7 separate regions of the Homo sapiens genome follow, and regions 1, 2, 3, 4, 5 and 6 are each reported to be linked to region 7. Evidence: microRNA targets listed by miRTarBase, many of them from high-throughput screens and not tested one by one. Region 7 holds a microRNA gene; each other region holds the end of a gene's coding sequence.

Region 1 (4,065 bases), not on the chromosome of region 7:
ATTCGACATGCCATTATCCACACTGGAGAGAAGCCCTATAAATGTAGTGAATGTGGAAAGGCCTTCAGTCGCAGCTCGTCCCTCACTCAGCATCAAAGGATGCATACTGGGAAAAATCCCATCAGTGTAACAGATGTGGGAAGACCTTTTACAAGTGGACAAACCTCAGTTACCCTTCGAGAACTTCTTTTAGGGAAGGACTTTTTGAATGTAACCACTGAGGCAAATATTTTGCCAGAGGAAACATCTTCCTCTGCATCTGATCAACCATACCAAAGAGAAACCCCACAAGTGTCTTCACTGTGAGAAAACCTTCTGTTGCTGAATATTACTTGTCATCTGAAGAGTCATATTAGAAATTCGTTCAGTCTAGAGCCTTATTCTCCATCTGATAATTTATCCTGGAGAGAGACCCAGTGGTTATTGTGCACATAGGAGAACCTTCAGCTGCATCTTTCTCCTTAGTTTACAGTGCAATTTTATCTCAGGAATTATTTTTAAAAGGAGGAGGGGACATAGAAAAAATGAAATGCAAGCACACATCTTTTCAGGCTTCTCTGCCAAGCCTATGGCGCTTTGTCATGGATTTCTTAGTGTATTTGGGGGAAGGGAAATGTTTCAAGGTAAAGAACCTTGACCCTTTATGTGCTTGTATGTACATTTATTGCTATCCAGTGTCAGAACAGTTAGTTTAGGAAAAGTATGCAAACTTTAATCGCACATCTTCTGTATTCCACAATAGTACTTACTCTTGAGAAGCATAACTTTATGACAACTTAGGGGGCTTGAGCCATGAAATACTCACGTTTAAGTCAGTAAGGATACACATGTTAACATTCAGGCTTTTGTCTTGATGCCCGTCTTTTGGTTTACGTCATCATTGTAGCCATATGGTAAATTTTTATTTGTTAAATTTTTAAAAATTACTTAGCTCAAAATGTCAGTGGTAAATTTTTAAATTGAGTAAAGTGATTCTTCTTTGCTCTTATTTAAAATCGACAGCATTTCTAGTTCCTTTGACATTCCATATAATTTTTAGGATTAGTTTGTACTTATTTACAAAACAGTCTTGTTCAGATTTTTACAGAAATTGAGTTAAGTCTGTGGATTAATCTGTTAAGAATTGGTATCTTTACTATGTTGGGTCTTGTAGTTCATGAGTGCAGGAGTAGGCCTCTTAATTTATAATAGTTAAGCATTCCTTAAAGTATTTCATTAATGTTAAAAATTTTCAGCGTATAGATCCCTATGCATTTTTGTTAGAATTTGCATCCTAGGGTGCTTTTTTGTTTGTGTGTGTGTGTAATTTGAGTGATTGTAAATGGCATTGATGTTTGAACTTTGAATTGCACACAATTTTTGGTAGTATACAGAAATATAATATTTTTGGACATTGTTTTGCTACCCTGCAACCTTATTGAGTTCACTTATTATTTTTAGCTATTTCTTTCGACAGAATCCTTGGAATTTTCTATATAGAAATGTCATCTGCAAATACAGACCATTTTTTATCTTTCATCTTACCTGTAATATACCTTTTATTTCCTTTTTGTTTGTCTTATTGCATTGCACAAGCTGGGACTTCCATTATAGCGTTGAATAGGAATAGTGAGAAAGGCCATCCTTACCTGGTTCCTGATAGTAGGGGGGACAATGTTCAGTTTTTTGTTTTTTTGTTTTTTGTTTGAGACAGGGTCTCGCTCTGTCACCCAGGCTGGAGTGCAGTGGCACGATCTTGTCTCACCATAGCCTTAAGTTCCTGGGCTCAAGTGATCCCCCCACCTCAGCCCTCACCACCCCCCAGTAGCTGGTACTACAAGCATGCACCACCAGTCCCAGCTAATTTTTGTATTTTTTGGTAGAGACAGGGTTTCACCATGGTGCCCAGGCTGGTCTTGAACTCCTGGGCTCAAGCAACCTGCTTGCCTGGGTCTCCCAAAGTGCTGGGATTACAGGCGTGAGCCACAGTGCACAGCATGTTCAGTTTTTCATCATGAAGTATAATGTAAGTTTTATAAAACATATGTCCTCTATAAGGGTAAAAAATTTCCTCTGTTCCCAGTTTTCTGAGACTCTGTGTTGCTATGAATAAGTGTGGAATTTTGTTCAGTACTTTTTCTCCACCAGTTGATGTCATTATGCTATTTTCCTTCTACATCCTATTGATGGAATGTATTGCTTTGATCAAGTTTTGAATATTGAGCCAGCCTTGCATCCTTAGAATAAACCATACTTGTTTGTAGAGTATAATTGTTTTTATATATCATTTGACATCATTCCCTTTGTTTGTATTTTGTTGAGGAAATATTCCTCTAATTTATTGGCTAATAATGTGTAGTTCTTTTTTCTTTTGTTTCTTATGTTCTAAATGTCTTATGTGTGGTTTTGATGTCTAGGTGATCTTGACCTTTCAACATGAATTGGAAGGAGTTCTCTTCTAATTTTTGGAAGACTGTGTAGAATTGGTGTTATTTGTTCTTGTCATGTTTGATGACCTCTAGTCAACCATTGGGCCAGAGATTTTTCTTCTGGAGGCTTTTAAATTACATATTTATTTTATTGGATAGGTAGAACTATTCGAAGTATCTATTTCTTGTGTAATAAATTTTGATAGTCTGTCCTGTTGAAGGAATATTTCATCTGTATTTGTAGCACTCCCTTATTCTTTTGATAGCAGGATCTGCACTTCTTTTTATTTTTAATATTTAAAATGTGCATACTCATTTTATGATTGAGTCTTCTTAGACATTTATCAGTTTTATTGCGCATCATGCTGAAAGATGTAATTTTTGCTTCATCTCTCACTTCAGAGAACTAGCACTTTATATTAATGATTTGTCTCTATTCTTGATTTCTTTGATTTCTGCTCTGATCGGTATTATATTCCACTTGCTTTGGTTGTATTTGGCTCTTTCTAACTTTTCAAGGTGGGGTTTTAGATTATTGATTTGAGATTTTTTTGCTTTTTTAATGTAAGCATTACATTGTATAAATTTACCTCATATCACTATTGGTTTGATCCCACAAGTTTTAATGTTTTCATTACATTTTAATTCTAATAGTTTTTATTTTTTGAGACATTCTCTCTTAGCCATGAATTATTTAATAGTATGCTTAATTTTCTGGTGTTTGGCATATTTGTTACTGATTTCTAATTTGTTCCATGTTTGATCTGACTGTTTAAATGTGTTAACATTTTTTTATGACCCAGGATAGGGTCTATCTTGTTTCGTATAGCTGCTTGAAAAGAATGGGTGTTCTGCTGTTACTGGGTGGAGTTTCTATAAATGTCTCTATGATCCTGCTCATTGTTATTCAAGTCAGCTATGTCCTTGCTGATTTTCTGTCCAGCATTTCTGTCAGTTGCTGAGAGGGGTGTTGAAGTCCTGAACATAGGCCGGGTGCAGTGGCTCACGCCTGTAATCCTAGCACTTTGAGACCACTAAGGCAGGTGGATCACCTGAGGCCAGGAGTTCGAGACCAGCCTGGCCAACATGGCAAAACCCTGTCTACTAAAAATACAAAAATTAGCCAGGCATGGTGGCGTGTGCCTGTAATCCCAGCTGCTGGGGGGCTGAGGCAGGAGGATCAGTTGAACGTGGGAGGCAGAGGTTGCAGTGAGCTGAGATCTCACCACTGCACTCCAGCCTGGGCAACAGAGCGAGACTCTGTCTCAACAACAACAACAAAAAGTCCTGAACATGATTGTGGAAGTGTGTTGCTCTTTCAAGTTCTATCACTTTTTGTTTGCAAAGTTCAAAGCTGTATTGTTTGGTACATATACATGTAGGTTTGCCAAGTCTTTGTGGTGAATTGACTCTTCTGTCATTATGTGATGTCATTTTTTTGCCTTTTAATAGTCTTGTCAATACTTTACCTGATGTTCTCATAGTGACTCCTGCATATTTTGATTAATGTTTGCATGGTTAATATTTCTTCATTTTATTTTAAAGCTTACCTGTATCATTACTTATGAAGTCAGTTTCTTTGAACAGCATATACTCAGGCCATGCTTTTTTTATTCATTCTGCATATGTCTCTCTTAATTGGTATGTTGAAATGATT
Region 2 (4,056 bases), not on the chromosome of region 7:
GGGACGCCTTCCACCCCGCTCCTGGCTTCGCTCATCTCCCCTGGTGTCTGAGCCCACTTTCCTTCCCCGAAACACCTCCTCCTCTGTTCTACTCACATCCTCCTGTTCTTCCAGCCCAGCCGCAGACCCACCTCTTCCAAGAAGCCTTTGTTCTTTCTGATGCAAAAGACTGCTTTTGGGTTCCATAGTGTTTGTAGTTTGGCCACGCCATTTGTTCTGGGTTAGATAATCTCCTCTCTTTTTCCCAGTCAGCAGAGCCCTGTACACTTTTCATTTCCCTCACAGCTACAATCCAACAGAGCCTGGAGAATATTCTGGGCCTGGAAATGTGACTGGCCCCGCCCTGCTAGGGAAGAGCTCTTCTGGGTGGCACAGGGCACGGCACCCACCTGAGCTCATCTGAGGCATGGGAGGGAGTACAGAGGCTCAGAGGGAGCCTCTTCCACCCCTACACTGCCCCTGCTTCCTGGAGGCTGTCCTGCCTCCTGAAGTTCATGTGGTGGGTAGTCCCCTGGGTTCCCAACAGCGGGATGCACGTCTTGGGATAGGAAATGGGATTTAGTTGGCCTTTCACAGAGAGGCCTCTCTGGATAAGAGAAATCCTTCATGGCCAGCTATTTAGAGACAGAAAATTGGTTGGGGCCCTTTTTAGTCCTGTGGGCGGCTACAGGGAGCCTTGGAAAAGGATGTCTTCCCTCGCCTCACAGCGCCTGGTACCAACCCTTCCCACGCCTCCTGGAACAAGACCAGCGTCCCAGACCTGTAGCTTTCTTATCCATCTGGCCAGGCCATGGTGGAAAACACGAATTGGGACCCAGGGACCAGGGCCCCCAAAGAGATCAGTCTCCCAGAGCAATCCTGGTAAGCGATAGGGAAAGCCAGGCAAGCTCCAAATTTCCTAGTTTGAATTGCCTAGAGGGACCCTACGTCCCTTCCTGCTTTCTCCATCCATAGCGTGAGCAGTTACCGAGCAGACCCTGGGCCAGGCCAGGCGGGTGGCAGCCTAGCTCCACTGCTGGTCAGTTGTGAGACACTGTGTCAGCTACCCAAATTCTGTCTGCCAGGGTGGGGGTGGTCACAGAACCTGCCTCAGAAGCGAGTTGAGTCAAGTGAGCCAATATACATAACACACTTCTGAGTGTGCATGGCACAGCACAAGGGTTGTGCAGGTGCAGCCGTCCCTCGGTGCATGGACACAGGTGTGGCCGTCCCTGGGTGCCTGGACACAGGTGTGGCCATCCCTCGGTGCATGGACACAGGTGTGGCTCTCCCCAGGTGCCTGGACAGAGGTGCGGCCATCCCTCGGTGCGTGGACACAGGTGTGGCCATCCTTAGGTGTGTGGATACAGGTGTGGCTGTCCCTCGGTGCGTGGACAAGGTGTGGCCGTCCCTAGGTGCGTGGACACAGAGTGTGGCTGTCCCTAGGTGCCTGGATGCAGAGTGTGGCTGTCCCTAGGTGCGTGGGCACAGGTGTGGCCATCCCTAGGTGCATGGACACAGCATATGGCTGTCCCTAGGTGTGTGGACACAGAGTGTGGCCGTCCCTAAGTGTCTGACCAGAAGTGATGTGAGCTTTGCACCCTCTTTTTGGGACTGTGGCTCCTTCTGTGGTCTAACCCTGGGAGGGTCCTGGGAGGCCAAGACTGGATCCCCGGGTGACTACATAAAGCCTGGCGGTCTCGGCCTGGCAGAGGTAGATGCAGGGTAGTATGAGGCTGATGGATGGAGCTCAGGGCGCCCCGCTGCTGCCGCTGCTGAGAGCAGAGCATGCTAAACCAGGACTCAGCAGGCAGTGACTGTCTGAGGCCCTGGGCAGGTCACTTAAGCTATCTGGGCCAGGCTCTTGTCTTGACCAGGGCCCCCCAGTGACCGTAACGAGGAAGGGTTTGGATAAGAATGTGTCAATTGTTTCCATTACTTCTCTGCATGGGGAAAAAGGGGCCCATAAGACAAAAACATCGGAAACACAGAAAACATTAGATCTCTAATTTTAATAGTTGAGAGGAAGGTTATAAAATAAAACAGACAACACAGAGCTTCATGACGGCCTCGGATTGGCAGTCAACCCAGGGATACAGAAATGTAAACAAAAACAGAGCTTCCAGATAACATTACTGTGTGCTATGTGACTTTCAGAATACAGCAGCGTCCCAGACACTCTAAAGTCAAGTGAAACAAGAGATTTTAGAATCAATCTATACACATTTCAGAGGGCAGTCCAGGAAGGAGCCTTCCTCTCAGGTCAGCCCAGGGCTGGGCCTGAGCCTGAGCCCGGGGACGTGTAGACACTACCCATTTTGGGCAGGGGAGGCCAAAGTGGTTCTGCTTCAGGTGGGGTTTGGCTTTAAGGGGCTGCCCAGCTGGCTGTGTTCTGGGGACCTCTTTTGCATTTGCCTCTGGCAGGCTGGCTCTGACCCCTGCCTGTTTTTCCCTTTGGCCCACAAGACGCACACCTCTTTACACCCAGAACCCCTTTCCCAGCTGCAGCAAGGGAGCAAGGGAGCCAGCCAGCCAGCCAGGACGGGTCTCCCCACAGCCACTCCAAACCCCAGCCTGGTCAGGTGAAAAAGTCAGAAAAAAGGCAACAGATACAATTTGGTAGCCATCAAATCCTCTCCTCCCTCTGGAAGTTTCTGAGGTGCTGGTCATCATTCTGTCCCATTTTTTGCCACTGTGCTAAGGCTTTTGACTCAACCAAGAAAAGGGCCGGTCTTCCAGCCTGGCCCTGCAAGAGTGTCCTAGTGCTTCAGGTAGTGGATGGGCATCGTCATTCGTCCCACCTTCCTGCCCCCTAAAGCCCCAGGAGGACACACTCTCAGCATCAGGCCAGCTCTCCGGGTCACTGGGGCTTGGCTCAACAGGATGTGCAGGGCAGAGCCGGGAGGGAAGAGCAGAAGATGCCATGGGCTGTTCGCAGGAGCAGCCGTCCAGGGCGCCGCTGGAGGAAGATCTTCTAGTGGCTGTCTCAGCACGTACAAAGAACGGGGGTGGGTTGGGGCAGCCCCCGCCCAGAGCCAAGGCACAGAGGAGGTTTGAAATGTCCAGGATAAATAGAAGCGCACGGGAATGGAGAAAAGCCAGCTCCATCCCACTCTTAAAAACATCGCCATTGGCACCAAAAATATATTAACATCTGTACATTTGTCATCTTTAAAAAATAAAAGGAAATAAAACCTTCTTGGCACCTTGTAGTTTATTTCTTAGAAATGAGGTGATATGTGGAAAGGCTTCCTGTGCGTGCACACACACACAGCAGTGCACACACACAAGCACACGCACACACACGGCTGGGCACACATGTGTGCCTCTCCTTGCCGGAAGGACAGAGCCCTCCAGAACCCTGAGCATTAGAAGCCCTGCCAGGTGGGGGGTCTGCTGCCAGCCCCCACCACAGTTGTTTGCAGGGGTACCCTTTGCCAGTGCTTTTGACTCTGATGTCCACTGGGGACCTGCAGCCCCTGCCCTGTGCTGAGAGGCGGGGGCAGTGGGATCCTAGCTCGAACCTCCTCTGGGTAGGAAGTCCTGCTGCCAGGCACACAGTGCCTGTCTCTGTGGGCGGCTGCTTCTAATTGAAGGCAGCCTTGGCCTCATCCCTTCTCTTGACATAGGTACATCTTCCCAGGCTCAGAACAGCCTCGGCCCATAAGTCAAAAATGCAAAAATGAGCAGAGGTCATTGCTGGGCCTGAGTGAGCACGTGTGCCCAGGGGGGAGACCAAGGCACGGGGGCTCCAGTCCTGATCACTGGTGTTCGGGTGAGAGGTTGCAGGAGGGTGGGCTGGCCAGGCAGCTGGGAGGCAATCCTGGATGCTCTTGGGGCTTCCAGGAGCACCCCCAGGGCTCGAGCCACTCACAGGTGGGGGCTGCCCTGCAGCAGGGAAGTGACAGTGTTCTGTAGTGCCACGGCCACCTTCTTGGAGGTCTTGCGCAGCAGCGGGCTGTCAGGGTGGTGCTCCTTCAGGTGCAGGACGTGGCCCTCCTGGCTCTCAGATGTGCAGCCGCACTCCTCACACACGTACAGCTTGGCCCGCCGCTCCTTGTACGCGTACTTCTGCTG
Region 3 (4,065 bases), not on the chromosome of region 7:
ACTTGGGAGGCTCAGGCAGGAGAATCGCTTGAACCTGGGAGACGGAGGTTGCAGTGAGCCGAGATTGCGCCATTGCACTCCAGCCTGGGCAACAAGAGCAAAGCTCTATTTAAAAAAAAAAAAAAAAAAAAAAAAGGGCTCACTCTTGCTAGACACTGGTAATGCTGTCGTGAGTCACATATGCTCCTTGCTCAAAGACTCATGCTTTGGGCAGGAAAACCTCTAAGTTCAATATAGTGCTAACAAAGAATGCTGCAGTTCATACTGTGGGAAATTATTCTTCCTGGAGGGCTTGTCTGAGCTAGGTATTTGTCAGAAACGCAGAATCACTAAGAGGATTCCAGACAACACATGGAAACACTGGCAGGAATGCTGGGAGAGGAGGGACAGGAGAGTCAAGCAAGAGCCTCACAGGTCACATGAAGAAGCTTGAATATTACCCTCTTCACAAGGGAGAGCTTTGAAGGGATTTTCAGCTACAGAACTTTTAGAAAGATCTTGGATGTTGTGAATAGGATGAAGTGAAGCAAGCAAAGAGAAGTTACTGGCCTGGCCAGGATACCATTGAAGTAGTCCCTGCTAGAGATTAAAAGAGTCCCAGTCACAGTGCAGTAGGGGGAGGGGGAGGGATGGGACAGGATATCCAGAAGCCTGACTGGACAAGATGATTAATTAATTTGATTGGGGTATGGATAGAGATGGAGAAGGAAGTAAAGCAGATGTATAGGTTAAGTCCCAAGTTTGTAAACAGGGTGGCTGTTGGAGTGGTCATCCCAGATGGGGAATGTTGAAGGAATGGGTTTGGAATAGGGGAATTAGAACACAGTGACATCCAGCAGATGTCTGAATATAATTAAGAATACCAAAGAGTAGATTTCCTGGACCCCTGGATGGAGAATTTTACAGTCCTTTTGCTTCAGTGATGGTGGAGGCCACGGGAGTGGTGAAGAAGTTATCCAAAGTGAGATTTTATTGTTGTTGTTGAGATAGAGTCTTGCTCTGTTGCCCAGGCTGGAGTGCAGTGGCACAATCTCAGTTCACTGCAACCTCCACCTCCTGGTTCAAGCAGTTCTCCTGCCTCAGCCTCCCAAGTAGCTTGGGATTACAGGTGCGCGTCACCACACCCAGCTAATTTTCTGTATTTTTAGTAGAGATGGGGTTTCACCATATGGGCCAGCCTGGTCTCAAACTAACTCCTAACCTTAAGTGATCCACCCACCTTGGCCTCCCAAAGTGCTGGGATTATAGGCGTGAGCCACTGCACCCAGCCCCAAAGTGAGATTTTTAAGACAGCATGGAGGACTTTTGTGTTCTGCTGTCCATTCCTTAAATATCAGAACTTACTTACTTACCTATTTGGCCAAGGCCTGGGGGGTTGGGGGAGGGGGGGGTGGGCAGGATAGCACAAATGTCAACTATCAACATGGCAGATTAATTGATCACTACTCCTGCAAGCCCCTGTTGGCAGCACAAGTTGAAAATGGCACTCTTGGGTTCCTGCTTCCTGGAATTCCTACTGTCCATGATCTCATGAGCTAACCCAGGGCCAAGGGAATCACTCTGGGCACACCAGTTTGAGGTCTAAGAAAGATGGAGCTTCCAAAGGCAGATGTAATAGACTGCAGCATTGTCATAATATTGGTGTCTTTCCCTCCCAGACTCAACCCTACTGGAAGATTAAACTCCCTGCCCCATAGAGGGCTTTAGCCAATGAAATGTGAGTGGGATGCAACATCATCATTTATGGAGGATAATTAATTTTTATAAGCCTCCTTATAAGGCTACACCAACTCATCCTTTTCATTCTGCTGCAAAGCCAGCATATTATAGCTCAGCCTACCATGGACATAAATGCAAATGATAACCTTTGTAGTAAGAGCAACATGGAAGTAGGAGGGGATCATGTTAGCACAGCATCAACTAGTAACAGCTGACTGACTGATCCAGCAGAGAAGATCAGTCCCCTAGCATACCTTTTACAATCCTGTCATCTTCCATTAAGAAGAGTCACAAATTACATCAACAACAGTGGTATATGTTTTAATAGTTTTCAGAATATAAGCTGCATAGCTTTTTAGAATAAAAAATGATATAACTTCAGGTACATGCTTTGGGACACTTGGTTAAACAAGGAATCTGTGTCTTTGATGACCACCTCAAAAGGGTCGCAGACTTCACAGTGTAACTTGGAAACAGACAAGGAGATAGATGATTACATCATGACATACTGCCTACAAAAGAACATTCTGACAGAACATTAAGTAGAACAGAGCACACAGTTTCAAGTATTCAGCACTGCTTTCTGGCCAAGTAAAAACTGCCTAAAGATCAGTTTCTTTCGACTGGAAAAAATAGATGGAGCTGCTGAGTTCTGGACACAGCGTTTCTTTCCCAGAATGAGACTGGCTCAGTCCAGCTTGAAAGCAGTGTGAGGAATCACTCTTCCCCTTGACTGTTAAGAAAAAAAAAAATGAACTAAACAAATAAATTACTACAACAACAGGGACCATGGCACTGAATGAAATAAAGGGGCAATCACCTTCCCATCATTGCATAGTCTCCCGAAGCAGCAAGTGTGAAAGAGGATACTGAAAAGCCACTTCATTTTTACACAGCCCAAGGATCGTTTTTATAGATGACCTGGGCACCTATAATGTCCAGTTGCTTTATGAGAACACACACACACCACATTCTTCCTACCCTCTAAGAGAAGGTAGTTCCTTTCACAATAAGAAAACACACCCTCATACTCTCCAGAAACGAGCTGTCTTGGCCACTTGACAGCTTTTGGGCACACACTATGGGCTTGGCAAGGCAGAGCTTAGAACAGGGTCAAAAGGGCAGCTCCCTTTAGTCCTTTATACAAAGGACTGTCAGAGTCCCATGCTCCTGGCAGCATCTCCTCAAGGCACAGGTGCCCAGATCCCCTGCAAAAGAAAACAGGCAGCTGGGCTCCAACGGTGGGGTATGACCTCCTCCCAGGCCAGGGCTTCCAAGGCAGGGAAGAAGGATAACTCTTCTCTAGTTACGAGTTCAGGCACCTGCTGCTGCTTCCAGGTTTGGTATAAAAACCTCAGCCCAGGCAAAGCCGGGAGCCAGAGAGCATTCTGTAGGCTGTAAGATCACGTTGTAAAATAAAAATATTACAATAAAATTTTTTGTAGTTGTCCAAAAGGGAGCACCTGGGTAAGCAATGTGACCTTCTGACCACAGTTAAGTCTCACTTTGGACTCTTCTTTCTGTTCTATGGGTGGTCAGAGGCTGTCACCAACTCAAACCACTGTCTGAGGGCATCGCTGAGTGTCTCAGGAAGTGCGTTTACATCTCGAAGAATGATATAGTATGGGAATGGGAACTCTTCCATGTAGGATCGGATTTCAGGCATCTCTCCAGGTCCTTTAAATATCGGTACTTTAATGTCCAAGATAGAATCCTGTCAACAAAAGACATTTTGAAATGGGGAGGCAGCGATTAAACCAGCATCCTTAGCTAGCTCTTCTGTGATCTCTTTTGCTAACTTTTACATCTCCTGTGTCTTATTCCTGCATATGAACCTACCTTTTATTACTAAGTAAAAGAGAATTTTCAGAACTCTACTAAGAAGGAGGTAGATGTCTTTCTGAGTGCCCCTTCCAGGAGGATGGACACTGAAAAAAAGGAAAAGGGATAGACAGGAAAATCTGCTTTCCCTACAGTGGTGTCTCCCCATCATCCACTTGGAATCATTCACACTAAATCTTTACCTTCCTATCAAGGCCTTAATGTGACCCACAGAGACAATGCTTCCCTGGAACAGAACTGCCCTATAGGCATATTTCACTAAGATGATTGATGCTTCTTGCTGTGAGGAGCTACTGAGACATAAGTTAAGTGTGGCAACACCTAATCTCCATTTCAAAGTGGTCAGTACCCATTATCAAGGCTGCAATACCTGCACTGACTTTGCATAGAGGGAAATGATGACCCACAGAGGATGGTCATTCTGAATCTTGGCTCTCCCACTCATTACCTATAACCTCTATGTGTTTCAGTTCCTTCAGTGTAAAGTGGGAATAATGATCCCTA
Region 4 (4,065 bases), not on the chromosome of region 7:
AACCTAAATCTCCAATTAAGTAAACTGTGGTACAAGCAGACAGTGAAATATCATCCTGCCACTAAAAATGGTTTCTGAAAAATAATGATGTGGGAAAATACAAATAATTAAATGAAATAAAAAGAATTACTAAGTTTGATCTCAAGAAACACTAGAAAATATCCTTCATATGGCTCTGAGTGTTGGAATTGTGGTGATGTTTCTGTATACATTTCTAAATTTTTCGAGTTTTCTACAATATGCCTATATTATATAGAATTTCCTAAGATGAATTAAAAATAAAAAAGGCTAAAGCATAGAATAACCTTCCCCAAACACACAAGGATTTTAAATGAATTGAAATTTCCTCATACTAGTAATTTTGTGCTTTTTTTTTACAGATCAACTGGTGAGACTGCAGTCAGTGCTTTTGAGATTGACAAGATGTACACCCCCTTGTTCTTCGCCAGAGTAAGGAGCTACACAGCTTTCTCAGAAAGGCCTCTGTAGAGCCTCAAGTCCAGTCCTCTATCACTTTTGCATGAATTAAAGTATATAGCGCAAAAGAGCACCTAAGTTATAAATGTGTGTGTGTGCGTGTGTGTGTATATATATATATATATATATATATATATATATATATATATATATATATGGAATTGGAACTTATTTTAAATTGTTGGAGTTCTTTTAAGAAGAATATAAATTGATTATTTTTTTTATTTAAAGGGATAGTTGATTCCTGGGGTGTTTTGAAATTAAGTTGGAATTAAGTTGCTTAAGCATATTTATGTTGTGAGAAACCTTAATATGAGGTTTATCATGCCCTTTTTCAAGCAGATTTATGAGCAGATTTCTGTCACATAAGTCGTCTTCTGCTTGAGTATCCTAATATTTCAATGCATCAGGGGAGCGCTCCACTGGATAAGCATTTTATTTCCCGCATGGCATAATGTTTTTGCACTAAAGGCTCAAAGTGTGAGAACCTGTTCTGGATTTGTTTGAAATTATTTCACCAATAAAGATCATAAATAAATGTTTCTTTCAAGAAAATATATTTGGATGGCCTTTTTAAAGTAACAGGATATTTAATAAGAGTCCTAGATAGCCAGCGGAGACTTTAAGAATCATTGCCTCTAGCTGGGTGTGGTGGCATGCACCTGTAGTCCCAGCTATTTGGGAGGCTGATGCAGGAGAATAGCTTAAGCCCAGGAATTTGAGTCTGGGAGTTTGAGTCCAGCATGGGCAACATAACAAGACCCCATCCCTTATTAAAAGAAAAAAAAATAATTCCTCATTTCATCATTGGTCTTTATATGTAGCCACAAACACTGACCTCATGTAGGCACCTTACCAATATATGACATTAAGTGAGAGTGAATCCCTTAGGACTGGAACACTTCAAGCTCAACCAACTGACTCAGTTGTCATTCTTCACAAAAGAATAGTAGAGGATCATGTAAACCTGAGCCTAACTCTTGTTCCAGTATGAAAGTTGGGGGAGAGCACCAGCCACCTAGGAAAACTGTATGTTACCTTTTTACTCAAAGGAGTCCCCCCTGCCCAGTAACAGTCCTATTAGTGTTTAATTTCAGAGTTTGTGTCTGGTAGACCTCTACCTGATTCAGATTTGGTTTTGTTGTTTCAACCATAGTTAGAGACAAATTCTCATGTACTTTCAGAAATCAATATCTGCAGCCACTGTTACTTTTAATTGACATTAAGAGACACTTCATAGGTTCCCACAATTCAGTATGGGATAGGCTTTTTAAAAAGCACATACAGACCAGGCGTGGTGGCTCATGCCTATAATCCCAGCACTTTGGGAGGCTAAGACAGGCAGATCACCTGAGCTCAGGAGTCCAAGACCAGCCTGGGCAACATGGCAAAACACCGTCTCTACAAAAAAAAAAAAAAAAAAAATTAGCCAAGTACAGTGGGGCACACCTATAGTCGCAGCTACTTGGGAGGCTGGGGCAGGAGAATTGCCTGAGCCTGGGAAGTGGAAGTTGCAGTGAGCCAAGATCGTGCCATTCCACTCCAGCCTGAGCAACACAGTGAGACCCTATCTCAAAAAAATAATGATGATAGTACACGTTATGTTAAAGGTGAAATGTGCATACAGAAGGAAGAGAGTTGGCCAGGTGTGGTGACTCACACCTATAATCCCAATACTTTGGGAGGCCAAGGCAGGAGGATTGCTTGAGGTCAGGAGTTTTAGACCAGCCTGGACAACATAGCAAGACCTCATCTCTTCTAAAAATTAAAAAAAAAAAAAATAGGCATGGTGGTACACACCTGTGGTCCCAGCTAGTTGGGAGGCTAAGGCAGGAGGATCACTTAGCCAGGAGGCTGAGGCTACAGTGAGCCAAGATTGCACCACTGTGCTCCAGCCTGGGTGAGAAAGCGAGACCCTGTCTCAAAAAAGAAAAAAAAGAGAGGTTGGCCTTTTGTAGCAATCTGAGAAGTGTGTTTTTCAAGTTGGAAAGGAAGGAGAAAAGCAACTTGCCTAAGATAAGGTAGCTCTTCATGATATGACTGTTATTTCTGATATACAAATAAATAGAACATGATTAGGACATAGTCAAATATAGCTAGAAAAATATATTCCTAAGGAAAGTGAGATTTGAGGAGTCCCTGTTGTTCTGCAACATCCCTAGATTGAATGATCTGTTGCAGATGGTGGATACCAAGTTCAAATTTAAAGATTTCTTTGTAAGCAGTAAAGTGACTTTCACTTATTTAACTTAGAACTGGAAAAAGTAACTTTTTTCCAGATTACATTTTCTGTATATTTGTAAAATGCAAAAGCAATATATATTTGTTGTGAGAAAATTAGAATATACAGATAAAATAAAATTTAAAAAAACACCCAAAGATAACCAGAAGAAAATTTTTGCTATGTAACCTTTTTCTTCTGGTCTTTGCAAATCCTGCCGTAGAAACTTTTTAACTTCAGGAGTGTCCTTCCTTTGCTCTATTAGGACATTACAGAAACCAATACTATGAAAAGCTGACAGCAGTATCTGGATTAACTTTTTAAAAACAATGAAAGCATTTTACAGAAATTACATTTCAGATCGTGCTGGAACTGTGTTCAGAAGATATCCTCAGAGGGAATCTGGCCTGAGCACCATCATGTTTAATTGCCTCCTCCTGTCTTGCATTTTCCTCCCAGCCCCCTTCCTACCCCTTAGCAGAGGGCCAGGTGAGGGTGCTTGGGGCCCATGGGGGCTGGGAGTGTAGACTTCAGTTACACCCCCAGCCCCCAGGGGAAAGCATTAGCCTTGAATCCTCAATCCCAGGCCCTCTACTAACCACTCTCAACCTATGGTATTTATCTTTTGATTATTCTGTGCATCTATAAAAATGGGATTATATTGTACAGAATGCTTTGTAAGCTTTCTCTCCCCACATAAGAATGCCCTGTAAGCATTTTGTTAAATATTTTTAATGACTTTAGAGTCCAACTTTATACTCCTCTTTACGCATTTTGGTTTTCTAATTTAATGGTAGTGTAAACGTTTTTGGAATAAACATTCCTGTGGCTAAATCTTTGCATACTTCTTGTATTATTACTTTAAGATGTTTCTAAGAAGTAGAATGACTGAATCAAAGAGTGAACATTTTAAAATATCTTAAAATATACATTTGGTAAATAATGTATACACTGTAGAAAAACTGGAAAATAGATGAGCAGACAGAATAAAATGTAAATTACCTGTAGTCACCTCATCCATTATTCACTTTTTGATTTTAATCATCCTGGCCTTTCACATGTATGTGTGATTTTTCAGTCATACAGTGAAACACTTCCAGTTCTGTCTCCTTTATCTGATGCTTTCATGCTCTGGATCTTAAAACCTGGCCAGTCATTTCCCCAGTGATGGATGCTGAGTGTCAGCAACAGCTCTAGGTAAGTTGGCAACCATGACATGTATGGGCTAAGGCTTGCAAGGCTTCTCTGGCCACACAGAATCCAATTGCAGTCAGAGCAGAAACAGAAGCCAAGGCGATGCAGTGGGATCCCAGTTTCACAGTGACCATCCATTGGTCACTGTGACCAGTCACGATAGCCTCCACATC
Region 5 (4,065 bases), not on the chromosome of region 7:
TGAGCCGGCTCCGTTCTGTGATCCCCTCGTGTGGGCTTCATCTGCTGATGGTGCTGGTGCCCGGAGGGGTCTCCTGGTGCACAGAAATCTGTGCTTAGTGGCAGTTCCAGGGGTGCTGCGGTACTTCCTGGGCTGATACAGGCTTTGTGGGAGTGGGAAGCTCCTGGGCGGAGGCTGCAAAGCTGCAGCAGGGCCCCGAGAGCTGGGTCTCCCCCTGAGGGGCAGGGGATTCAGTTAAATGAAGCTCTGGGCGGCCCCTGCCACGACATCTCAGATGCCGGACTTGGAGCTGCGCAGTGGGCCTCCTGCCTGGCTGCTGGGATGGGGCGGTGGCCGTGGGGCGAGGCCTGGGGCCCTTCTGGGGTTGAGCAGGGAGCAGCTGCCGGCTGGGCAAGTTTTCCTGGGTCACCCACCCTCCACTGTGGGTCACCTCCTCTGACCTGGGCTTGTGTCTTTCTCTCCAGTTTTCCTGGATCACCCGCCCTGCACCGTGGGTCACCTCCTCTGACCTGGGCTTGTATCTTTCCCTCCAGTTTTCTGGGGTCACCCGCCCTCCACCGTGGGTCACCTCCTCTGACCTGGGCTTGTCTCTTTCTCCCCAGGAGCTGCTGCTCTTCCTCCAGAACCTGCCCACAGCCCACTGGGATGATGAGGACATCAGCCTGTTGCTGGCCGAGGCCTACCGCCTCAAGTTTGCTTTTGCCGACGCCCCCAATCACTACAAGAAATGAGCCCAGGCCCACCCGCAGCTGGCCTCACTGTCCCGGGTGGCGCGCCCCACCTGCCTGGCTGGTGGTAGGCCCCTGTGAGCTGGTCCCGGGCTGCTAAAAGGCCTTGTGAGGTGGCCCCACCCTCCAGGGGAGCTGGTGAAGATGGGCCACAGACCTGGTCTAGGGCTGACAAAGACAGGGACAGCCTTTGTTTTCTGAGATACCAAAGAGAGCCAGGGGAGGGCCCCGGGTTCGGCGGCCAGAGGCAGGTCAGGGGTCCCCTCTCCCTCTCCCTGCAATGTCCTTGCCAAATGACTGCCTCGTGCTGCCCCTAGTCCGGGGCAGCCTAGGAGGCCGACCCTCTTTGGAGTCCTGCTGTCTGGGTGCCAGGGCCGGAACGAGGTAGTGGCCATCTCATACCTACTCTGAAATGCAAAACTTCTATTCTGTTGAGTGAAAGAATAAAATGTAGACAAAATCTAGACCGAGACGTTGCGCTGACCCGGGGTCTCTGTGCCGCGAGGTCCCCTCACAGCTGTATTTCACTGCTGCTGGCCCTTTCCCTCCGTGTGTTTTCCTGCTTGCTTGGTTTAAACGTGGCTGGGAAGCTGAAGGCTGGAGTCCAAGCCGTGAGCCCGCCGAGTGCCTGGGAGGCCGTGGGACCAAAGGCTGGGAGCAGAGGGAGGCCTCGCCATCGCCTTACTTTCCACCTTGAACCTCTTTTACAAGAGAGAAACCCCCACCTCCCTGAGGTCCAGGGCCAAGTGGCCCCGCCACGCAGGTAGGCGCCGGCCTCAGCCAGAGCCCCTGGAGGCCCACCCAGGCTGTCGGGCCATGTTGGGCTGGCAGACGGGCAGGGGGTCGCGTCCCTGTCATCAAAGCCCTGAACCACAGTGCTCTTCTCACCGCAGCCTGGAAGCGGAATGAGCTTTTGGAGACTTCCTGGGACTTGCTGTCCTTGTCCAGGTCTGCCAGGTGTAGGGGAGGTGTGACTGGTTCCATCATGGACCGGTTCCTCCATGGACCGGTTCCTCCGTGGACCGGTTCCGCCATGGACCGGTTCCGCCATGGACCACTCCTGCCCTGGACCACTCCTGCCCTGGACCGGTTCTGCCGTGGACTGGTTCCCGCCGTGGACCAGTTCCCGCTGTATACTGGTTCTGCCCTGGACTGGTTCCCGCTGTGGACTGGTTCCTTGGGGCTCTAAGTGCGGAAGGGCCCAGAGCTGGTCCCTGCCCAGCGCCCTGCTAGGGCTGTGTCCTTGGCTCCAGGGGCCTTGGGACTGGCTTCCCAGCGTTCCCTCGGTGTGTCACAGGCTGCATGACCCCTGGAATGCGGGCAGGGCCACAGCCACAGTCTGTCTGATCCCTGAGCCCAGGACAGGCTCACGTCCTCAGCGACCCACTGGTGACTGACTTCCCAGACTCTCCTCTGTCCCTCAGGAGCAGCCGTGTCCTCTCCCAGGCCCTAGGACACTGCCAGAGACTGTGGGACATACAGGCATAAGTGATGTGTGTGTTTCTGCTTCTGTTTTAAAAATCCAGGGTCATTACACACAGCATGGAAATTAGCACAAAATGCTGTGCAAACGTCAGATGCTCCCAAACCAGCAAAGGGATGGGCTTGCTTCACATCAGATGCGGGCACGCCTTACCCCTGCCTTCCGTGTCCCCACCCCAGGGTCAAGGGTTCCTCAGACCAGCCATGCCTCCTCCTCCTGCCGCCTCCTTTTCTAGATGGGGAGGGGATTCCGTCACAAGAAGAGCCGCCCCTCGGCCGTGTGCAGGAAGCCCCATGTCGCTTTGCCGAGATCAGCCCTGGGAGGATCCCCTTCTCCAGCTCAGATCATGCCGTGTGGCCAGAAGGCTGCGGACACAACTGACCTGCTTCTCGAGGTGGTTGATGTTTTAAACAGGAAGCTCCACGGAGTTCAGCCCTGTGTGCATTTCCTCATGTATGTAAACGCCAAGACTGAATGTGAGAGGTGTTGGCCGCGGGCCTTAAGTCTGAGCAGATCCATCTGGAATGTTCGGGGTGTGCTGTCTGGATGTGGTGCGCTAAAAACACGGAATAAAGATCAGTGACAAAGCCGCGGCCTTGGCCTGTGATTCGAGGACTTGCCCATCGAGGACAGGGGCACCCTGGCCCAGCCCTGCCGAGGGTCTGAGCTCAGGGCCATTGCGGCGCACCAGCGTGGGCCCGGCAGCACCCGTGATCTCGCTGCCCCCCGCAGGACCTCTCAGGGAGATGGGGCTGCAGCTGCTCAGGTGGTGCAGGGATGCCACTTGCCCGGGCGGGGCAAGACTCAGAAACCAGTCTGACCCCCGAAGCCCGGCTCTGCACTAGCTGGAACACGGGAGTGTGGGGTCCAGGCTGGCCCCTGTCAGGCTCCTGAACAAGGGACCTCCCCTTGGGCCACATCTGTCAAGCACCTGCTTTGAAAAGGGCTGTTCCGGGGTAGGCACCAGGGTCTGGGGTCCCCCCCGCCTCTCCTGGGATACACTTGCCTCACCCTCACCCACACACTGAAACACCCTCCTTGCCCTGTGTTACTGAAGCAAGGCCCTTCAAAGGGCCTCAGTTTCTCAGGGCAGCTTTCCAGGTGCGCCACACCCCTCTGAGTAACCCCGTCTGGGTGCCCCACCCTCAGGTACCCCACACCCCCCTGGGTGCCCCACCCTCGGGACCCTCCCTTGGCAGCACTTGGCTTTCCACTGCCTTGTGCTGTCCGCTGACGGGTGTGGGGTGTGCTCCTGTCCCCGCGGGTGTGGGGTGTGCCCCTGTCCCCGCGGGTGTGGGGTGTGCCCCTGTCCCCGCGGGTGTGGGGTGTGCCCCTGTCCCCGCGGGTGTGGGGTGTGCCCCTGTCCCCGCGGGTGTGGGGTGTGCCCCTGTCCCCGCGGGTGTGGGGTGTGCCCCTGTCCCCGCGGGTGTGGGGTGTGCTCCTGTCCCCGCGGGTGTGGGGTGTGCACTACTGACCGGCTGTGGGGTGTGCTCCAGTCCCCACGGGTGTGGGGTGTGCTCCTGTCCCCACGGGTGTGGGGTGCGCACTACTGACCAGGTGTGGGGTGTGCTCCTGTCCCCGTAGGTGTGGGGTGTGCTCCTGTCCCCACGGGTGGGCTGGTGGCTCCACAAAGTGGGAGTAGCCTCTTCACCTCTCTTTCCACAGTGACCCAGTGCGGAGCTGAGCCAGGCAGGGCTGCCTTCCTGGGCCCGGTGGCCCGGCACATGGGCTGACCTCACTGTTGCCTGGCTGTGGTCTGCAGGGTCGTAGGCTGCAGGACGGAGATCGGCTGTCCCCAGCAGCCACCAGGTGTTCAGCTCCTGACTCCAGGTCACAGCCCAGCAACTGCCATTC
Region 6 (4,057 bases), not on the chromosome of region 7:
TATTCCAAGATGCCCAGATCCCGCCCCAACAATGCTCCACCCACTCTGGTTGTTCCGCGTCTAGGGTCCCACCCTCAACCTCCCGTAGATACAGGCGAGGGGGGTCCCAGGCCACGCCTCCTCCGTATTATTCCTCCATCACAGCTTTAGTTCTTTGCCTATTTCTCTCTTGCGATCCGCCTGCTCGGCCCTGCAACCGTGTGTGACTGGAATTCCTAGGCCACGCCCCCCATGAGCGACCCGTCTCAGCGTCTCTTTGGCCTTTTTCTTTCTGGTGTTTTTTTTTTTTTTTTTTTTTTTTAAGACAGGCTCTTGCTCTCTTGCTCTCTCACCCAGGCTAGAGTGCAATGGCGCGATCTCGGCTAACGGCAACCTCCGCCTCCCAGATTCAAGCGATTCTCCTGCCTCAGCCTCCTGAGTAGCTGGGATTACAGGCATAATTTTTGTATTTTGTATTTTTTTTAGTAGAGACGGGGTTGTGCCATATGGGCAAGGCTGGTCTCGAACTCCTGGTCTCAAGCGATCCGCCCTCTTCTGCTTCCCGAAGTGCTGGGATTTCAGGCGTGAGCCACCGCGTCCAGGCTTTTTGGCCTACTTTTATCCTGGGTCCCCGTCCCTGGGACCATGAGGCGCAACCTAACCCACCCCTACGGCCAATGCCTGGCTAAGACGTCACTGTTGTTCCCAGGCCACGCCCACATCGCGCTCAGCACTGCCTCTGGCCTGCCTGCTGTCTCCTTTCTGAGAGAGCCTCTAAACTGAATTTCGGACTCTTCCTACACAAAGCACTGCCCCTCGTGGTTCTACCCGGGCACTGCCTTTCTGGGTGCCTCTGTTTTTTCCTGAACATCCTTGGAGGGCAGGGGGTGGGTTCTGCTCGTGGAGACATCCTTCGTGTTGCTCATTCCCCCACCAGGTGGCCCTGCTGCAGTTGATGGAGACGCCAGAGCTGGCGGGGCAGGAGGACGCTGTACGGATGCAGCAGCTGAAAATGAAGTGAGCGCTGCTGCCCAAGCCGCCTGGCTATGCTCGATTTGCACCAGGGTTGGCACGGTCAGGACGCTGCCAGCAGAGGAACCCTCTGCCAGTGCACAATGGTGTTCTCACCTGGTGGCCCTCAGATGTACACTTCCCCAGAGGGCACAGCCGTGAAACTTCACATCAGTTTCGCTGTGCATTGCTGGGACACTGCTGTATACCTCGACACATGCCAATCCTGCACACGTGGCTGTCCGTGGAGCTTGGACATGCCCCACTGAGCACAGACCTTCAGATGCCTGTCCTCAGCCCCCAAGCACACACACTCATGTACACACACATTTGACAAAGTCACACTTCATAACCTCCTAATGGTACACACCCCACCAAGATGGCCTTTTCTTTTCTTTTTTTTCTGAGATGCAGTCTCACTCTGTCACCAGGCTGGAGTGCAGTGGCGCGATCTCAGCTCACTGCAACCTCCGCCTCCCGGGTTCAAGTGATTCCCCTGCCTCAGCCTCCTGAGTAGCTGGGACTACAGGCGCGTGCCACCACGCCCAGCTAATTTTTTGTATTTTAGTAGAGATGGGTTTCACCATGTTGGCCAGGATGGTCTCGATCTCCTGACCTCGTGATCTGCCCACCTCAGCCTCCCAAAGTGCTGGGATTACAGGCGTAAGCCAGCACGCCTGGTCCTTTATTTTCTTTTCTTTTTTCTTTCTTTTTTTTGAGATAGAGTCTTGCTCTGTCACCCAGGCTGGAGTGCAGTGGTGCGGTCTTGGCTTACCGTAACCTCTGCCTCCTAAGTAGCTTGGATTACAGATGCCCGCCACCATGCCTGGCTAATTCTTGTATTTTTAGTAGAGACGGGGATTCGCCATGTTGGCCAGGCTTGTTTTGAACTCCTGACCTCAGGTGATCTGCCTGCCTCAGCTTCCCAAAGTGCTGGATTACAGGCGTGAGCCACCATGCCCAGCCCAGATGGCCTTTTCTCTCAGCCCACTGTGACCTATGGGGCCACCCCTTCTCCCTAGCACCTAAGTGTTCCCTCTTGCTGCTAGTGCTGCCTGGAGGTTTGGCGGCGGGCAGGAGGGCCTGGGGCTCACCACAGCCACAGCCCTCTTGCAGCTTCGCGGCAGCAGCTAATTCACCCCATCTGGGTTTTATTTATAGTTCCCATCCGCTCTTGTAGGGTAATTAAAACCATGGAGGCGATCAGCGAGGTTCTCCAGGACCTTAGGTTTGATGCGGAATCTGCCGAGTGATGGCGGCTCCCCAGGGATGCGCCGAGGGAGATGGGAAACGGGGCGGATGGCGCCCAGCCCAGCCCTAACTGCCAGCTGGCTGGGGTTGCGCCCCACTGCGCTGCTGACCTTCCTGCAGTTCCAGACACCTCCCACAATAAAGAGCTCCTCCTCTGTAGCCGCTCTGCCATCTCTGTGTACAAGGGTGCTGCAGCCAGTGTGCCTAGGGAGGGGGCCCCCACAGGGCCAGGGATTGTGGGTAGAAGACTCCCACCCTCCCTAGAAACTGAGGTTTTTTTGCTTGAGACAGGGTCTTGCTGTGTCACCCAGACTGGAGTGCAGTGGCGAGATCGTGGCTCACTGCAGCCTTGACTTCCCCAGGCTCAAGCAGTCCTCCTGCCTCAGCCTCCCAAGTAGCTGGGACTACAGGCACATGCCACCACAAGCCCAGTTAATTTTTTTTTTTTTTGAGATAGAGTTTTGCTCTTTTTGCCCAGGCTGGAGTACAATGGTACGATCTCGGCTCACTGCAATCTGCACCTCCTGGGTTCAAGTGATTCGCCTGCCTCAGCCTCCTGAGTAGTTGGGATCACAGGCATGCACCACCACGCCCAGCTAATTTTGTATTTTTAGTAGAGACGGGGTTTCTCCATGTTGGTCAGGCTGGTCTTGAACTCCTGACCTCATGTGGTCCACCCATGTCAACCTCCCAAAGTGGCGGGATTACAGGCGTGAGCCATGGCGCCTGGCCAATTTTTTGCTTTTAGTAGAGATGAGGTCTCCCTTTGTTGCCCAGGCTGGTCCCCAACTCCTGGCCTTGAGCAGTGCTCCCAGCTTGGCCTCCTAAAGTTCTGGGATTACAGGCATGAGCCTTTGCAGCCAGCCAGCTCAGGTATTTTGAATCACATTCTCCAAGGAGTTCAGAATCAGACCTTGCAAATACTGGATAGACAGTCTGAAGTCCTGGGAGGTGAAAATTCTAATCTCAAAGGGTCATTAAGACGCCTCACATTCCCCTCAAATCTCACAGCCCCCACCCCAGGCCAGGCAGGCCCCAAACTCACCTTCACAATCACAGCACCTAAATAGCTCATTTATTTAAAAGGACTCTTTTGGAGGGGCCCTAGGTAATGGGGAGTAATGACTCCCCTTCTCACCCCCAGCCCTGGCAGGGGTTCTAGGCAACTCAACCAACCCTCACACACACACACACACCCACTGGGGTGCACCCAAAGGTGGCCTCACGTGGGAGTCAGAGCTGTTATGGCCGTTGGAGCTCAGGGGCCACCCCAGCTCCTGCTGAGGGTGGCTCAGGTGCCCTGAAGTGAGGGTACAGAGGTGGCCCCAGTTTGGGTTCGGCCTCTGCGTCTCCACGTGGCAGGGAGGGTGGCCTGAGCCCCTACAGCTTATCTGGCAGGACCTGCAGGCAGAGGGGAAGCCAAGCTAAGCAGGGAGTCCAGGAGAGGGCCGCACCACAGAGCCACTGAAGGAGGCTTCATTCGTGTCCTGTCCCCACCGCTTCTGGCTGTGTGACTTTGGGCAGGGTCCTGCCCCTCTCCGGGCCTTGGCGAGGCTATCTGAGCTGCAGGTAAAGCACTTGGCGCGGAGCCAGTATGCAGTAGGCGCCCATGCGTGCTAACTAGGGTGAGTATGTTCATTCATTTCGGAGGAGATTCCACTTCGGACATTTTCAGGGCATTGAATGTTCTTAGGCTAAAGGAGACAATGCCAGTTATACAGTAAGTGCTAAGTAAATGCTGATGAATAACAAAGGAAGAGGACGGATTCCATCTCAGCGACTCTAAGGCTGGGGTTGGGAGGCGTGGGGGTGTGAA
Region 7 (4,065 bases):
TTCTACATTTTAGCAATAGTCTTTCCTTGGCTTATAAAAAATTAATTGCGGGGTATTCTCTTGATTGGGTACTTTAGATCCTGGTGACTGTTCTAACTGATGGGGCTGAAAGACAGTTCCCTTATCTCATAGCCAAATCACCTCCATGCAAATTGATCTGGGAGTGCCTTTAGAATAAACACAGCTGGATTCTCTGCAGCCATTTATGGGTCCAGTTTCCTAGGCTTAATTTTGATTTATAACTACTGAAATTAAATTAGCCATCTTCACTGCTTAAGGGTGGCTTTGATTTCACCAGTGCAGTAGGGAGACTATTTACCAACATATTTTATCAGTAACATTTCAACCTGGGTAAGGGGGTGGCGGTGGGGGGAAGGCATCTTATCTTTGGTATTTGTACTTGAGATTCCTTCAGAATATTTTAATTGTATTATTTACCGACAAATGTGAGGATTAGATTGTCAAATCAGACTCACATGAATTAAAGATCTTGCCCAGCATCAAGCTTTGCTAAATAATTTCAAGGATATAAGCTATCAAGTTCAGATAAGGTGCATCATATAACATAAAGTGGTGTACCTTATGTCATATGCTCCAGGTAGCCCTGCCTCATAGATCCTGGGTTCTATTAACTATGGGTAATCCCTTAGCCAGAGACATCTTGCTAGGGACAGAGATATAGTCTCTTATTCATAGTAAGTAACATTAGTCTATTTCCATTTGACAAAGAGATTAGACTAAGTCTTTGCTTTCCTCTAGGAGCACAAATTATTGTACAAAACGAGAAACAAAATTTGAGAGATTAAAATATGTGAAATATGTTAATAGTTCTAAGAAGGCTTTTATCTAGAACACGGTAATAAATGTCGACGTGCTATAGTAGGAAGAGTTGAAGATAAATGGTTAGATATCGCTTTTTATCCATATGACTTTGTGCATTAGTTTTTTGAGCCTCAGTTTTACTAATATTCCAAAGGATTAGGGAAATAAGCCTAACCAGAGTGACTCTGATTTTTTTTTTTTTTTTTTTGAGATGGAGCTTCGCTCTTTCACTCAGGCTGGAGTGCAGTGGCACAATCTTGGCTCACTGCAACCTCTGCCCTCCAGCTTCAAGCGATTCTTCTGTCTCAGCCTCCCAAGCAGCTGGGATTACAGGCGCCCACCACCATGCTTGGCTAATTTTTGTATTTTTAGCAGAGATGGGGTTTCACCATGTTGGGCAGGCTGGTCTTGAACTCCTGACCTCAGGTGATCCATCCGCCTCAGCCTCCGAAAGTGCTAGGATTACAGGCAAGAGCCACCACACCCAGTCGACTATGGAAATTTTAAAAGACAGTACATATACGTGTGTGTGTGTGTGTGTGTGTGTGTGTGTGTGTGTGTATGTATACACATATGCTATATACACACACACACACACGTATATCACAGAACTGAAGACCATAAAATGTTCTATACATATGAAAAAATGAGAATTTGAAATGTACATAATTCTTCACACAGATAGCTGACAGTGTTATAAATCTCCTTTCTTATAAATAAGAAAAACAGTCTCAGAAGTAAGTAATATTCTGATGGAGAGTTAGAAAAGAAAACCTGTCTTACAACTCTTTAAACATGCTTCTCCTCTAAGCTAAATCATAGTTTGCTAAAGAAGGTCGTGATAAGGTAGAAGAAAGACAAGAAAAGCCAAGGCAATGGGGTGAAGCAGGCGGAGAAAACTGTTTATGCCTCTTCTTCCAATGTCTATTTATTTTCTTTGTGGTTCTGAGCAACTATTTCTTCTTTTATCTTGCAACTGTCAAAGCAGCTCTCTGTAGAGAAACCAGCAAGCACACCCATTAAAACCAAAGCATGAATTTTCGGGTGAGGATCAGTGAGGCTCTCTTAAGAATACCTGAATTTTCACAGAGATAAACATATTTATTTGATTTAAATGGTAGAAAGTGTTAATTACTAAGTTTCATATACTACCAGGAGTCATAGAGAAGTCATTTTGGAGACCAAGAGTATATTCCTAGACCATGTAATCACATCATTTGAGTAGCTGCTTACTGAGTTTATTCACAATGAAAGCCTGATACATAAATTCTTTAAACAGAAACCAGTGGCATTGTTAATTTCCACTTTTGTTTCCAAATTGTTGCTTTTGTCTCATTGAGAGCATATTACTTACTTCAAGCACCTTAACAAACAAAGCTGGGTCATACACAAACGTCCTACTGTACCAGCAATAAGACAATATGAATACCCTGCAACCTCTCAACAACCAGAAGACAAAGATGTATTTGGAAGGGGCAGATGGGAAGTGAAAAAGAGAAATAAAATATACTTTACAGGGAATATTTTGCACACGTAATTCTGAGTGTTATATTTTTAGCTTGTATAAATAAACTTCATTAGTCTTCATTTTGAATATACAGGAAAAGTTTTTTTAGAAAAGACTCATTGTCACAAGCTGATAAGGTAAGTTAGGACAGTATATGATTAATATGCTACAATGATGTCTAAGAGAGAGGATGCTCATTAAATTTGTGTGTGACAAAAGTTGGAAAGAGTGTTAAGACCTTGAAATACTGGAGCATCTTTCAAAGTGAAACTTGACAAGTTAGAGAAATGGTCAGATAGAGAAATGGATTTTAATCAGACTGAAAGGAAAATTAATGTATTGGTTTTGTCAGTTGTACCTTCATCTTGAACGTAATGACTGCCTGTTACTTCCTCTGTGGTTTCATCCGAACCTAACGCGACACTCCCCTGAAAGGTCTCCTCTCTCCCTTCCTTGCTCTTCTGTAGCCCATGCTTCACTTCTCAACTATGGTGATGTTTTGAAGATGTGAATTAGATTACATCATTCTTTTCTTCAAATCCTCAAATAATATTTAGAATATAATTCAAATCCTGGGTTGCCATGGTCTACAAGGCCTCAAATAAAATAGGTTCTGCCCACATCTTTGTTTCATTTTCTTTCTTTTCTCTGCCTCCAGGTTGGCACTTTTGTTCCTTTAACTCTTCAATTTACCTTGGTGCTTTGTACCAGCTGTTCCCCCAAAGTAGACAGCTCTCCATAGCTCTTCACACGGCTGCACTTCCTGCTACTCTCACTTAAAGTCACTGCCTTGAGCCAATTTCGTTAATCTGGCTCTAAATAACAACACAACCCCATCTACACTACAGTTCATCCTAATACCAGTCTAATTTTCTTCATAACACCTATCATTATCTGAAATCATCTTAGTTGTTTCACTTTAGAATCCTCCTTCTCTCATGAGAAAGTAAACATTGTGCGGGCAGGGTCATGGTCTTGTTTGTCCTGTACTTCCCACCCGTACAGCAGTGCTGGCACTTAGTAGGTGCTCAGTAGATATTCGTTGACAGTATAAGACAGAAGTCCTCAAATGTTGTCCAAGGACATTTGGTAGTCCCTGAGACTTTCGGGAGGGCCAAGGGCCAAAATCTTTTTCATCATCTCACAAATATACAACGGTGCTGTCTAGAGGCCAAAGGATATATGCTATCACAAAAGATTGCCTGCAGAAGTAGTTGTGAGAATCTAGCTCTCTTAAGCCAAACATCAAAGAGATTGTCAATAATGTAAAATAAGTCACTCTTCTCACAAAATTATCTTAGTGTTGGAATATAATTATTTTTCATAAAAGTACACAATTTATTTTAACATGCAACATGCAATGTGGTGGCTATTTTAAAATGAATTAATAAATATATAAATGTTTTCTCAGTCAATTCTCAATAGAGTAAACACTAATACATATACATAACCTATACAACAAACATAAACTTCTCAGAGGTTTTCAATACATTTAAAAAGTAAAAAGGGATCTTGAATCCAAAAATGTGAAAACCACTGAAACAGAATCTCATCAACTAGTCTCCATTATTCCCTAGAAAACATCCAGTAGAACTTTCTTCTCCAGTTAAAATTGCCCTCAAAGAAGGTTTTCTCTTTCCTGATATCCATGCTTTTGCTATTCATTGTTTATGAAATGTCTGTCTGTTTCTCTCTTTCTCATTTCTCCATGTTTGAAGTACACTTTAAAGCTGTCC

The links. The annotated mature microRNA hsa-miR-8485 reads CACACACACACACACACGUAU and lies in region 7 at 1,342-1,362, opposite strand. An mRNA with a match to its seed (bases 2 to 7 or 8) in the 3' UTR can be bound and repressed. Matches are read on the target gene's strand: a 7mer-m8 pairs with bases 2 to 8, a 7mer-A1 pairs with bases 2 to 7 and ends in A, and an 8mer does both.
Region 1: the mRNA of ZNF264 is a reported target of hsa-miR-8485. Seed matches in the 3' UTR shown: 7mer-m8 at 1,292-1,298, 7mer-m8 at 1,294-1,300, 7mer-m8 at 1,296-1,302 and 8mer at 1,298-1,305.
Region 2: miRTarBase lists OVOL1 as a target of hsa-miR-8485. Seed matches in the 3' UTR shown: 7mer-m8 at 3,278-3,284, 7mer-m8 at 3,262-3,268, 7mer-m8 at 3,260-3,266, 7mer-m8 at 3,246-3,252, 7mer-m8 at 3,244-3,250 and 7mer-m8 at 3,242-3,248.
Region 3: miRTarBase lists MDN1 as a target of hsa-miR-8485. Seed matches in the 3' UTR shown: 7mer-m8 at 2,679-2,685, 7mer-m8 at 2,677-2,683 and 7mer-m8 at 2,675-2,681.
Region 4: the mRNA of FBXO9 is a reported target of hsa-miR-8485. Seed matches in the 3' UTR shown: 7mer-m8 at 564-570, 7mer-m8 at 566-572, 7mer-m8 at 568-574, 7mer-m8 at 578-584 and 8mer at 580-587.
Region 5: the mRNA of TBC1D22A is a reported target of hsa-miR-8485. Seed matches in the 3' UTR shown: 7mer-m8 at 2,221-2,227 and 7mer-m8 at 2,223-2,229.
Region 6: miRTarBase lists CRLF1 as a target of hsa-miR-8485. Seed matches in the 3' UTR shown: 7mer-m8 at 3,430-3,436, 7mer-m8 at 3,428-3,434, 7mer-m8 at 3,426-3,432, 7mer-m8 at 3,424-3,430 and 7mer-m8 at 3,422-3,428.

Annotation. Positions count from the first base shown.
Region 1 is chr19:57,212,676-57,216,740 of GRCh38, forward strand. It overlaps ZNF264 (zinc finger protein 264), which reads left to right. Exons shown (of 4, transcript NM_003417.5): 4 at 1-4,065. The coding sequence ends at 306. Among named protein-coding and RNA genes, the nearest start is that of AURKC, 16 kb to the right of the region's middle.
Region 2 is chr11:65,795,135-65,799,190 of GRCh38, reverse strand. OVOL1 (ovo like transcriptional repressor 1) reads right to left here. Exons shown (of 4, transcript NM_004561.4): 4 at 1,977-4,056. The coding sequence ends at 3,850. All of the region lies in intron 4 of LOC124902693, which reads left to right. Among named protein-coding and RNA genes, the nearest start is that of OVOL1-AS1, 6.3 kb to the right of the region's middle. RefSeq lists enhancers at 848-1,371, 2,951-3,451.
Region 3 is chr6:89,640,761-89,644,825 of GRCh38, forward strand. It overlaps MDN1 (midasin AAA ATPase 1), which reads right to left. Exons shown (of 102, transcript NM_014611.3): 102 at 1,738-3,433. The coding sequence ends at 3,245. The region is part of intron 1 of MDN1-AS1 (MDN1 antisense RNA 1); the gene reads left to right. Among named protein-coding and RNA genes, the nearest start is that of LYRM2, 4.0 kb to the left of the region's middle.
Region 4 is chr6:53,097,342-53,101,406 of GRCh38, forward strand. It overlaps FBXO9 (F-box protein 9), which reads left to right. Exons shown (of 13, transcript NM_033480.3): 13 at 381-3,532. The coding sequence ends at 489. Among named protein-coding and RNA genes, the nearest start is that of FBXO9, 34 kb to the left of the region's middle.
Region 5 is chr22:47,172,896-47,176,960 of GRCh38, forward strand. TBC1D22A (TBC1 domain family member 22A) reads left to right here. Exons shown (of 13, transcript NM_014346.5): 13 at 603-2,798. The coding sequence ends at 731. Among named protein-coding and RNA genes, the nearest start is that of TBC1D22A-AS1, 260 kb to the left of the region's middle. RefSeq lists an enhancer at 2,956-4,046.
Region 6 is chr19:18,589,938-18,593,994 of GRCh38, forward strand. CRLF1 (cytokine receptor like factor 1) reads right to left here. Exons shown (of 9, transcript NM_004750.5): 9 at 3,300-3,642. The coding sequence ends at 3,629. It overlaps REX1BD (required for excision 1-B domain containing), which reads left to right. Exons shown (of 5, transcript NM_001100418.2): 4 at 917-996; 5 at 2,171-2,400. The coding sequence ends at 2,243. Among named protein-coding and RNA genes, the nearest start is that of REX1BD, 3.2 kb to the left of the region's middle. RefSeq lists enhancers at 1,712-2,235, 3,119-3,620.
Region 7 is chr2:50,694,831-50,698,895 of GRCh38, forward strand. It overlaps MIR8485 (microRNA 8485), which reads right to left and starts at 1,432; the gene lies at 1,342-1,432. The region is part of intron 5 of NRXN1 (neurexin 1); the gene reads right to left.